2 linked regions of the Homo sapiens genome follow. The protein of the gene in region 1 purifies or fractionates together with the protein of each later gene. This does not show direct contact. Each region holds a gene or a part of one and is shown on either strand. Other genes may lie near its edges.

Region 1 (3,500 bases):
CCACTAAGACTCTGGGAACTTTCCAAAGATAATAACTTTCATAGACCTACATAGCTTATAAATCTAAGAGTTCACATTTGTGAAAAATAATTTAAATGGGAAAAAAAAACTGTCCAACTGGATTATTTCCTTAACATACTTGTAAAACTTATCTCTTCTTTGGCTTCTTTGTACCATTTTCATTGCTCTATAATTTGCTAACATATTAATTTTTAAATATTTTGAAATATCCAATTAGTAACTGTTTTCAAAAAACTTCAAATCACGAACAAAAAAGTAATGTTTGAGAAATATAGTACCTGACAGAGGATGTTCCTGGCCCACGGTCTCTGGAATCCATTACCCAACCAACATGACACTCTAGAGGGGGATTTGTGCTATGCCTTGTTTTTCTCTTTCTTGGACTCTAAAGAAAATAAAGTCAAGCATTGCAATTAGTTTCAATAGTGTGAACTTCACAAGTAAATTAAAACCCTCTGACTATAAATGAACTCAAACATTTTCATACTGTAGATAACACATTGTGAAATCATATGAAGTCACAAAACTCAAAAATCTCACACACAAGTTACAAAACTTAATAAATAAAGTCCTTTGGTAGGTTTGTGACACAAAGATGAAATGAAGTGCAGCTTAGTGTGATTCTTCATTATACTTTCTGTTCGTCTTTAATTACACTATCCAATTGTAAAAAAGGTTTTTGTTTGTTTGTTTATTTTTAAATGGGGTCTTACTCTGTTGCCAAGGCTGGAGTGCAGTGGCATGATCATGGCTCACTGCAGCCCTGACCCCTACAGGCTCAAGCAATCCTGCCACCTCAGCCTCCCAAGTAGCTGGGACTACAGGCACACGCCACCACGCCCATCTAATTTTTGTATTTTTTTAGAGATGGGGTCCCACTGCATTGCCCAGGCTCGTCTCCAACTCCTGGGCACAAGCGATCCACCTGCCTCGGTCTCCCAAAGTGTTGGATTACAGGCATAAACCACCGTGCCCAACCGAAAAATTTCCTAACCAGAGAAAATATCACTATGGTAAAGTATGATTTTTAAGTGAAATATTACAAGTTATAACACACATTTTTCAATGTGATAGAAACTAAAACGTTTCATTCTGTAATGTTAAAGGATACAAAATGCAAGCCTTATATTCCTGGTTGTTTTGTATACCTTTACATCAATGGCTTTTGGTTCTTTAACAACAGGATAAAATCTTGGTGTTTTGTTAGGATCTTGTAACCTAGGTGTTCGAGGTGTTTTGGGTGTTCTTGTAGGATGAATTCTAGGAGATTCTGGAACTGCTGTAGGCAACGAATGAACCATTGCTGCTGAAGTTATTTCTGAAACATCAAATAACTTCTGAGCTAATTCATCAGTCAAATCTGCAAAATAAAAAACTCTTAAAATTATTTAGATGCTAGGAAAATATTTTACTTTGAGAATAAGGATAATTTTGTAATTCTCTAAGCTCAAAGGATTTTTCACTGAAAACATTTCAAATATATAAAAACAAAAATAACAAATACTTTTTTGACCATTATCTAGCTTTATAAAATTTTTATTTTTCTATATCTGTTTATGACCTTTTTTTCTTTTAAAGAAAGGGTGAAGCTTCCTGTGTAACCTCCCCTAATCCCATTTCCCTCCTGCTTTCCCTTCTCAGAGATAACTAGCCTCTTAAATTGGAATTTTGATCTTTTATTACATATATGTAATATTATTTTGCATAATTAACTTTATGTAACATAATGCTATATATATATATATATATATATATCACTTTGTAAACTTTTTTCATGTTTTATTTACATAGCTCTAATTTGTTCATTTTCATTGCTGAATAGTATGTGGTGTACAAATATATCACAATTTATCCATTCTCCTGCAGATAGACATTTATGTTATTTCAAAGTTTTTTGTTTAATCAACAATGCTGTGATCAACATTGCTGAACATGTCTCTGTACAGGTACAAGCATTTCTCTAGGGTTTATATCTGAGTGGAAATGCTGAGTCAAAAGAGATAAGCATCTTCTAACTTAATGACTACTGACAGCCAAACCACTTTCCATAATGATTTCACCAACTTACACTCTCACCAGCAGCATGTGAGAATTCCAATTCAACATTCTGGTGAAGACTGGGTTTTGTGCAAACTCTTAAATATTCTTCCATCTCATGGGATTTAAATGATCTAGTTGTTGCTAGTGAAATTGAGCATGTTTTCATATTTCTAGTTACCCTTCAGACTTCCTCTTTTGTAAGCCTGCTATTCAAATCCTTTGACTGTTTTTTTTATTCGGTTATTTTACTTACTGATTTGTTCATGAAAATCTTATGGTAAGATAACAAACAAGCCAGCAGATGAATCAAGCAGTAGCAACAAAAAAAAATAGGCACTATTTCTGTGTGGTTTTTCTTCAGACTTATCGACTTTTTTTGATTCATATAACAACTTTTTGTTTTTTCACTCAACAAATACTAAGTGCCCGCTATTTGCCAAGCACTATTCTAGGCACGAATTTGTAAAGTCAAAAGTGAACTTACACATTTGCCATTTCCTCTCCCAATCCATTTTCTTCACTGTTACCAGAATGATTATTCTGAGGAGCAAATTAGATCATTTCATATTTCTGCTTAACATCCTTCAGTGTTTCCCATTTGCCTCTAGAATAAGCCTAGGCTCTTTACCCTGGCATATGAGATTTTGCTGATTTTGCCTCATCTGTTGTCATTTTCCACTTTGTTCTTGGTGACACAAATAGCACCAAACTGTCAGTCCTGTTCCTTGTTCCATATCTTTTCATATGCTTTTTCTTCTGTCTGAAAGTCCCTTTCCTGCATCTTTTGTATACCCAATGCAAAGGATATCATAGCCTCCCTTTAATACCCACCACAGATGTTACCTTTCTTGGGAATGTGAAGCACTCCTTGAACACCTCCTGCCAAGAGAGTTAATTAGTCCCTTTTTGTGCTGTGTCTGCATTTTATCCATTTATTGTTTCATTTATTAAATTAAAATTTATTTTCTTACATATCATCCCATAGATGCCAAGAGTAAGTCTCATTGCTTCCCAGAAAGCAACTACCACAACTGCATCGAATACTAGTGCCTACCATACATAATGTTTGGGAAAAAATGTATCCTCATCAAAGGAATGCTAAACTTAATTGAATTGTGTTAATACTGTTTTCCTTATGCCAAAAATATATACAATCTGGCCAGGTGCAGTGGCTCACGCCTGTAATCCCAGCACTTTGGGAGGCCGAGGCGGGTAGATCACATGAGGTCAGCAGCTCGAGACCAGCCTGTCCAATGTGGTGAAACCCCATCTCTACTAAAAATGCAAAAATTAGCCAGGCGTGGTAGCAGGCGCCTGTAATCCCAGCTACTCGGGAGGCTGAGGCAGGAGAATTGCTTGAACCCGGCAGGTGGAGGCTGCAGTGAGCCGAGATCATGCCATTGCACTCCAGCCTGGGGAACAAGAGCAAGACTTCATCT
Region 2 (2,814 bases), on another chromosome or scaffold:
TCTGCCCCTCAGCCCTTCCCAATCTCATGCCACATGACCCCCGAGCCGGACGGTCACCTGAGGACTCATTTCGTGCCCTTTGTTGACTTCAAGCAAAGCCTTCAGGGTCTCCAGGGACGTCACATTCCACTTGCGAATGTCCTCAGGGCTCATCTTGAGGAAGAGGTAGCCCAGGTGCTGGATCACAGACTCGGGGTAACCTTGTGGGTAGAGCTGCAGGCCAAGAGACCAGGAGGGCCCATGTCACTCCCAGAGGGGCTGGGGATGGCTTGGACACAGCAGGCCGGTGGGAACTTGAGTCATGAACTACCTCATCCAGTTTATGCTTTAGGACGTCCAGCTGCTCGTAGGTGAAGGGGATGGCGTTCACGCGGTCCATCTGGGTGGCCAGCAGGGCCGCATCCACGCAGGCTTCCAGCTCCCACTTCTTGTAGAAGATGAGGCTCTCGTCTATCTCGCGGGCCTTCTTGCCTGAAGGACAGGCTGTCTCTGCAGGGCACAGGGGTCAGGGGTCAGGGCCGGAGTTCGTTTGACCCCTTCTTCCTCCCACACCTCCTGTGAGATGAGACCTCGGGCCATTTGTGACCCTCCCTGTGCCTCAGTTTACCCACTGGCAAACAGGGATTCTGTCCACTCTCTGTGATTATAATGGGATGTGCTGCAGAGCCAGGGAGGGGCAGGTGAGACCCTAAAGTGATGCCCACCCCCAGGGGTGCTGCCCAGCCTGGTGCCAGACTGCGCAGGGCACGGCACTCACTCTCCACTTCCCGCCGGAACCGCGGCCGGAGGATGGTCCGTTCAGGCTGCCGCCAGGATGGGTCCCGAGAGGAGCGTTGCCGCCACGCGGCCACGATGCCCTGAGGACGAGCAGGACCTGGGCTGAGCCTCGGGTGGCCGGGCATCCCCACGGGCTGGGGATTGGGGTCTCACCTGCGGGATGCTGCGGATGATGGGCTGGCCCAGCACGGGCAGCAGGCCCCGCAGAGCGTCCATCGTGGAGACAGACCATGTCGACGGGGGGCTGTGCAGACACGGGACACAGCTCAGGGACCCCCCACGTGCAGCCCCAGAGAGGGAAGAGGCCAGGCCGTACCCCCTGGCTGTGGAGGGGACGCTGGGGGCATTGGCAGGGGTGGTGGCGGGGGTGACTGACCCTGGGCCTTGAGGCATGGCCGCAAGTGTCCTCACGCTGCTGATACCACGCCGCCAGGTGAGCCTTCGAGGTTCCAGACACCTTCACTTACCCGTAGGGGGGTCCCCCGCCCTGCAGAGCCGCCCTGGCTGCCTCCTGCTGGTCCTGGTCCAGGGGTCCCGGGCAGCTCACCAGCCGGGGTAGCAGCACTTCGGCCGACTCGGCCACAAAGCGCCCAGGCAGGTCGCAAGCCAGGCCTCCCAGAGCCCGCACATCAGCCTCGCTCAGCAGAGACCCCCGCACACCCTGCAGAGAGGCTGGCCTCAGCGCTTTTGGAACTGCCGAGCCCTCTCCGCCCCGCGCTGGCCCCAGCCCCTACCCAGCAGGCCAGAGCCGCAGGCAGCAGCCGCTGTCGCTCGGGAGCCCCCCTCGGGAGCAGGTCCACATTGGCCTTCGTGATGCGGGAGAAGAAACGGGTGCAGGCCTGGGGCCCCGAGAACGCATCTGGGCTGTGAAGAGAGGGTGCTGGGGACAGGCCGCACTGATCACACCCGTCCCCACCCTGAGAGGCAGCCCGGCCGGCCTCCACATCTCTGCTGTGGCCTGGGATCCGAGGCAAGGGGCAGGGGGTTGGGGGCTGAGGGCTGGCGGCAAAAGCCGGGGGGGTGGGTTCAGGGGGCAGGGCCTACTTGAGGAATAGCAGCAGGTCCAATGGGAGGGCGTCCAGGTCCTCGGGGGGCTCAGAGAGCCGGTGAGCCAGACAGCGCAGCTGCAGGGGCAGGGAGTCCAGCACAGAGCGTTTCGAGCCGCCACTCACATGGTGGGCCAGGGTCGCCTGGCCAGTCTGCCCACCACAACACACCCCTGCCCTGGCCACGAGAATCTGTGGAAGTGGATCTCTGGCCGCCTGCAGCGCTGCCCTGGGGGATGGGGGCTCCCGTGCCTGGCTCCGCTCCCCTTCCCCAGATCTCACCCACTCCCCCGAAAAAGATTCACCCTTGGGGCAGAGCCTGGAGGGCTGCCCACGGCGCTCCAGGAGGGGGCCCAGCACACAGCGTCATATCAGACTTGCTCCTGGGGAGCCAGCCCCTGACGTGGACAGGCACCCCAGTGGTCAGCTTGGGTGGCCAGAGGAACTCTGGGAAGAACTGGCCGGGGAGAGATGGCAGCAGGGACAGAGGGGACCGTGGTGGCAAGGTGGGCACTGCAGAGCTGCCTGTGAATTCCTCAGCCCCAGCTGTGCCCACCTGCCTCAGCCCAACTGAGACTGACCTGCTCTGTTGAGAGCTTGACATTCTTCTGTGCCAAGGCCACAGCCAGCTCCCGGACACGCTCCGTGCTCAGGCCGGACACCTCCGCACACGGGAAGCCAAGGAGTTGGCGAGGGGAGAGGCTGCAGGAAGGGTCGGGCTGGGCACCCACGATCGCCCCTCCCCTGCAATGTCCACCCAGTGCTCCCCAAGCCCCACAGCCCCACCTCTCCCCAAAGGACCCTGGTGCTCCCTGCAGACCTCCCCCCAAGACCAGGTGACGCCCTCAAGGGCCGGGAGTTGCCATCACCTGAGGGGTGTCAGTCCCTCCCGCAGTCCTGAGCCCAGTCAGATCTGAGGTGGAGCAGAGGAGGAAGGGGGAGGGGATGCTGGGGGATGGGGTGCCCTGCCCACCCTCAGTCCCGAGGGCCC

What was found.
Region 2: the proteins of LARP1B (region 1) and MSLN purify together in Homo sapiens (affinity purification with mass spectrometry; one large-scale study listed by BioGRID and IntAct). This does not show direct contact.

Annotation. Positions count from the first base shown.
Region 1 is NC_000004.12:128,176,312-128,179,811, reverse strand, and holds part of LARP1B (la-related protein 1B), read right to left. Parts: intron 2,941-3,500; coding exon 2,905-2,940; coding exon of another isoform or gene 2,893-2,904; intron 2,602-2,892; coding exon of another isoform or gene 2,546-2,601; intron 1,382-2,545; coding exon 1,170-1,381; intron 407-1,169; coding exon 300-406; intron 1-299.
Region 2 is NC_000016.10:763,734-766,547, reverse strand, and holds part of MSLN (mesothelin isoform 1 preproprotein), read right to left. Parts: intron 2,526-2,814; coding exon 2,405-2,525; intron 1,902-2,404; coding exon 1,822-1,901; intron 1,642-1,821; coding exon 1,512-1,641; intron 1,439-1,511; coding exon 1,245-1,438; intron 1,022-1,244; coding exon 931-1,021; intron 858-930; coding exon 758-857; intron 490-757; coding exon 311-489; intron 214-310; coding exon 58-213; intron 1-57. UniProt on the Homo sapiens protein: Membrane-anchored forms may play a role in cellular adhesion. Megakaryocyte-potentiating factor (MPF) potentiates megakaryocyte colony formation in vitro.